2 separate regions of the Homo sapiens genome follow, and region 1 is linked to region 2. Evidence: fine-mapped expression QTL. A gene starts in region 2. The other region holds a variant in brackets. All regions are shown on one strand. Distances are from middle to middle.

Region 1 (2,919 bases), 310 kb before region 2:
GGTCTCAGCTACTCGGGAGGCTGAGGCAGGAGAAGCGCTTGAACCTGGGAGGCGGAGATTGCAGTGAGCCAAGATCGTGCCACTGTACTCCAGCTTGGGTGACAGAGCAAGACTCCGTCAAAAAAAAAAAAAAAAAAAAAAAAAGAAGCCAAGTCACATTTTTTTTAAGATGGGATCTTTCTTTGGTATCTAAGCTGGCGTGCAGTGGCGCAATCATAGCTCACTGCAGCCTGGAACTCCTGGGCTCAAGCAATCCTCTTGCCTCAGCCTCCTGAGTGTAGCAAGGACTACAGGCGCATACCACTGCGTCTGGCTAATTTTTAAATTTTTTTGTAGAGACAAGGTCTGTCTTTGTTGCCCAGGCTGGCAAGTCACTTCATAGGAACTCATGTTTTGCAAAGATACAGGCAATAACACATTTTTTATGATAGCTTGGTAAATCTCTTAAAAGGGAGAGGTTTATGGCAGAAATGATAACGCTCTAACTACATGTGTGTGGTTAACTCTGTTTCAGCCATTCAAGTTAACTTCTACCTATATTTATGGGCTTGATTGCATAATGTATGAAGTTTGCAGGAAGTACCTGGAAGATAAGGTTACATAGACAAGTTATTTAAGTTTGAAAATAAACCACAGCTCATGCTGGGAAACTAGTTTATAGACAATTTTGTAACACAAGTGAATACGTCATTCATTTTCTTTTAATATTTTTCTTATCGCATAGTTAACATTAGGAGATTAATCATTGTTTGACTGTGCAGCATAGTAAGTTAACAGAAAAATGTAGCATCAGGGATTGATTAGCTGAAAAGTCAGTGAGTTACATTATAGAAGCGAAGATAAAGACTTGATGATATTTAAACCATCCAAACAAATGGATGATTTGCATATATGATGATGTCCCACTGGACAATGGTTTTCTTCATGAGCGTCATTCAGTAGTAAGACTCAGGTCTACTGACAAATATTGCTTGATCAACATATCATTTGCCGCAAGAAATGACCTTTTATGGTTAATGTGTAACTGATTACTGTTCTTCCTCTATAGTAGCCTACATTTTACAGCAGAGAAATACACTGTGTACACTTAGTGCCCTACAACACTAAAACATGTCAAATGGTGGTGGTATACCTTCATATATTATGATATTTGGCATTGTGCAATGGTTATGACACATTTGCAGTGCGTTCACCCTGTGTTTCAGCTCTTGTTATATGCAATAAAACTTTTGCCACAATATTTAGATACTTAGAAAAATCAAGACTATTTTTCTTACAAATTAAGAAAAGAAGAACTAAAATCTCTCATGGAGGCAATAGA[G/A]GTTTGAAAGATAATGTATGTAGAGGAAAAACTACTCCATTCTAATGAAAGCAAATTACCCTACAATCTTTGGTGTGGAAAATTAAAACTAATGACATGTTCACATTATAATGCAAAATTGCCTGTAACCTATTTTCCTAGCATGAGATGCAGCTTTTTTTCAAACGTAAATAATGTGTCCATTTAATAATTTACTCTTCTCCATTACTGCAAAGACAAAAAAAAAAAAAAAGCATTTACAATCGCCACCTTTCTATTCCATTAATTGTCAAGAACAATCCAAGAGAGTTCTGTTATTTTCCCTGTGATAATTTTAACAGATCGAACGATTTTTTTAAAACAGGTATTCATATATCTGAGGGCTCTATCTTTTTAAGTGAATGTAAGTAAAATGTGCCACCTTATTAAGTTGGAAATGACCTGTTATCTGTTATTTCTTGACCTTGCAGAGGTTTACAGTGACAAGTGAATTAACCAGGTGAGGGAGAGGGTTTGCTAGTGACTCAGTCACAGTCTATTGTGTGGGATGGCACCTAGCAAAGCATTTAGATTAGGCTGGGGAGGGAACAAAGCTAGGTACACTCTCTCCAGCTTCAGGTAAACAGGATTATTGTTTTCCATCCCTGCTGTTTGGAATGAATGCAATGCTGCAAAGCTAATTGCTGCCATAATTAGGAAAAAAAAACAAGAAGAAGAAGAAATGACTTGGAATGTGTTAATTCAGTATGCTTTAAACCTCAGAGATATCATTTTTCCTCATACACAGGCGAGGCTGGCTCTATTCATAGCTTTTTAAATGATAAGTTTAAATGTTAACATAATATTGAAAAAAATCCTTGGAAGGTAGCAGTTGGTAAGTACTTGGTGTATACAATGCTGAATGGTGGTCATTATTAGCATTGCAACCAGGTGAGTAGAAAAATCCCATTCTGGGACTTAATACCATGTACAGTAACAAATGCAATCAATTGAAATGTTCCTCTTAGAACAGGCCTTGCTGTGTGCCCAGTCTTTGCCACATACTATTTCATAAAGTATGCAACTTTCAAACCACCTCCACATAAGATTTCACTCTGCTGTTGAGAAATTCTTCCTCATGTCTAAGTAAATCACCCTATCTGCAGTTTAGCAATTCTGTTTCCTCACATCTTCAGCAACATCTAACATTCTGTATTAACATATGTCTTCAGCCGGGTAAAGTGGCTCACACCTGTAATCCCAGCACTTTGGGGGGCTGAGGCAGGTGGATCACAAGGTCAAGAGATCAAGACCATCCTGGCCAACATGGTGAAACCCCATCTGTACTAAAAATACAAAAATTAGCTGGGTGTGGTGGCATATGCCTGTTGTCCCAACTACTCAGGAGGCTGAGGCAGGAGAATCACCTGAACCTGGGAGCCGGAGGTTGCAGTGAGCCGAGGTCGCACCACTGTACTCCAGTCTGGTGACAGAGCAAGACTCCTTCTCAAAACAGAACAAAACAAAAAAACAAAAAACAAACAAAAACAAAAACAAACAAACAAAAACATATATATATATATATATATATATATATATACATGTAAGAAGAGAGATATATATATCTCTCTTCTTACGAC
Region 2 (2,919 bases):
AAAAAAATCTTCTAGCTAACTTATTAACCTAACCACTAGATTATAATGAACACTACAATTTAAAAAAGTATATTGCAGCTATATATGCTCCATAATGTATTTCCTCCTTACCTTGTAAAGACAGATGTTTACATTTAAAATTATTTGTAATTACTTACATTTAAAATTAGTTGTAAACACTAGTCAGGAATAACTTACTGGTAATTTTGTTGATTTAAAAACAGAAGGACTGGCGAGAGTTTGTTCATGGAGATTAGAATAATCACTAGGACTTTCAAAAGGATTTAAAACAGGGATCCTTCCTGGAGTTTCTGGTGTTATTTGCATCTTTGATTCCTTGACATCTCCCATAGCACAGAGAGAAAACTAAAAAGAAATCAAGAGTATGCATGTTAAAATTACAAAGTCCCATAGATATTAATTTTAACTATTAAAATGTACTCGACAAATGTGTCACAAAAAACAACTCAAAACCTCACACTCTTGGGGCTATGATACAGCTTACAAAAAAAGTATCACATATAAATGTTCTCAACTGATCCTCGAAACAACCTTGAAAGCTATAGCAGTAACTTACTAGTGATATTATTTTGCGAAAGTATTAAGCTCAGAGAAGTGAAGTGGCTTATACGCAGCAATCAAATATGAATGAATTCAGATCTGCCTCTGAGGAAACTAAAGGTTACAACAGGCCCAGATCTCTTCTCAACTAAAGGACTTATAGCTACAATTTTTTTTAAATTCATCATCTCATGTCTCAACACTATGAACATTCTTCGGATACCCTATCCAACTACAGTTGCTATTAAACAATTCTTTGTAGCAAGCAGGTAAGAGATGAGGAAGCTTGTGCCTTTCTTGCACATGAGTCCTAGCCAGAGAAGTATGATTGACAGGGGCTAGGAAATTAACTGCCTGGGGTCCCCTTTCCTCCAAAAATCCTCCTTTCGCCAAGACCTCCCCTCCACCCCTCCCGGGATAGAAAGGGAGACTGCATTACTTGCAATCAAAGGAGGCTACAGAGGCTACACCTTGGCGGGGTGGGGTGGAAAAGAGTCTACTTCTGGAAGGTTGAGATGCAGCCGGCTTCCCTGGATGGAGTGCGAAGGAGGCGTCGCCCCCAACCCTACGTGGCCACTCTTTCTGGTGCCCCTCTCTTCCACACCTACTCCCTGACTGCTCCCATTCACCAGGGGCGAGCGGGCAGGCAAGTCAGGAGCTGGGAAAAGAAACCTCTCCATTCAGACAGGAGGAAAGGCCAGGGACCACAAAGAGCGTACCTACCGGTGCGTACAAAACGAAGCCCCCAGTACCGACTCCAGGGAGCTCCGGGGGCCAGGCCAGCTTCCACGACAGGCATAGACTCTTTAACTCCCCGCTTCCGCGCTGTCTTGGGCCAACCAGGGCACGGGGCTTGTGAGCGACTAGCCAATCGTGTCGTCCCGCCATCCGCGAACCAGCCAATCGCACGGAGGCCGCGTAGGAAATTCGAATGGCAACTCCTCGCTCCACGTTCCGCGCAGAGGAACGTGGCTCCAAATTCAAATCAACGCAGCCTCACGCCGGCGGCGAGCGCGAGGGGCGGAGCCTGCCCGGCGTGGGCCGAGACGCGCTGTGTGATTGCCTCGGAGAGAGGAAGGCGCTCCAGTTCCGGGTCAGGCCCTTCTCCCGCCTCCCTCGGCCTTAGCCATGGCGAGTAGCAGCGGTGCTGGGGCGGCGGCGGCGGCCGCGGCGGCGAATCTGAATGCGGTGCGGGAGACCATGGACGGTGAGTTTCCGTTGCGCTCCCTTTACCTTGCGTGCCTTCCCAGAGCCAAGGCCCCCAGGCGGGAATGAGCCTGGGGAGGACTTCAGGTCCCCTTAGTGCCCCAAACGGCATCTTCCAAGATCTTTGGTAGGGACCTGCCAGGGCCGCAGGGCTGATGGCCCTATCCCTTGAGAGTTGTCTCCGCCGCTGCGTAGTTTGTCGCGCGCGCTAGGCGTTGCGGCCCCTAGTCAGCCGGTTGCGCACCGCGTCCCTCTCGCGCGAATGCCGCGCCCCCTCTATCCCGCATCCCAGGTCCGCCCTACCCGCCCGATCTCCTGCGGTGACAGCGTCACGCCCACCCCACCCAGTACACCCGTTCCCTCCTGCGTGCCGCGTCCCACCCGATTCCCGCCCGGGGCGCTTCGGGGGTCCCCAAGGTTGGGATCCCGGCGGGGACAGGGGCCAGGTGTTTGGTCACCGCTATGCCTCCTGTTCTTCGCACTTAAGTAGGCACCTTTAATATCCGGCGAATGAACAAGTTCCCCTTTGGTCATAATTATCCTAGTTTCCTCTTGAAGCGGGTGACACCAGTGCCCAAGTGCTATGGTGTCGCCTGTTTTCGGCCCCGGAGGCACGTGTGTGTGAAGCCTACACAAGTGTTGCAGAACACGAAATTTGTGTCTTGCGGTTACCCTCTGTCTACCCTCTAATGTCGGTTCTGCCACTTTATGCCCCTGTGGTGAGCTTGGACTAGATACTTAAACATCATTGAGCCTGTTTAGTTTTTTTTTTTTTTTTTTCTGTAAAATAAAACCCTACCTCCAGGAGTTGTGAATATTTAAATAAGACAACCATGTAAAAACATATCAAAGATGATCAATTATTTTTATATTATTTCAGATGGCCTCTCTCTTGTAGTCTTCTTTCTTTGTCTCCTTTTTACTCACATCCACCTGTATTATGAGTGTTTGATCGATGTTGTTATTTGCAGTGGGCCTAGACGTTTTCCAGGGTCTACTCACGTCAGCTTCCGTCTCTGTTAAAAGATAACCCTATGAAATTCTCACTGCTGTATCTCTCTCTCCTTCACCGTAGGCTCTTTTTTTCTTTTTTGAGACACAGTCTTGCTGTAGTTGCCCAGGGTGGAGTGCAATGGCGCAACCTCGGCTCAC

Alleles and levels. Alleles are on the strand shown, and positions count from the first base shown. SD is a standard deviation of normalised expression in the study named.
In carriers of allele A in region 1, the expression in subcutaneous fat of the gene that starts at base 1,369 in region 2 tends to be lower than with G alone (large effect, 1.2 SD a copy in TwinsUK).

What was found.
Region 1: its variant is fine-mapped to the expression of BORA in subcutaneous fat (TwinsUK, PIP 0.95).

Annotation. Positions count from the first base shown.
Region 1 is chr13:73,038,838-73,041,756 of GRCh38, reverse strand. No RefSeq gene overlaps it. Among named protein-coding and RNA genes, the nearest start is that of KLF5, 19 kb to the left of the region's middle. The variant G/A (reference allele first, on the strand shown) is at 1,322.
Region 2 is chr13:72,726,373-72,729,291 of GRCh38, reverse strand. It overlaps BORA (BORA aurora kinase A activator), which reads right to left and starts at 1,369. Exons shown (of 12, transcript NM_024808.5): 1 at 1,285-1,369; 2 at 199-366. The coding sequence starts at 351. MZT1 (mitotic spindle organizing protein 1) reads left to right here and starts at 1,663. Exons shown (of 3, transcript NM_001071775.3): 1 at 1,663-1,768. The coding sequence starts at 1,690. RefSeq lists enhancers at 1,088-1,137, 1,858-1,927 and silencers at 1,348-1,497, 2,021-2,202, 2,158-2,217.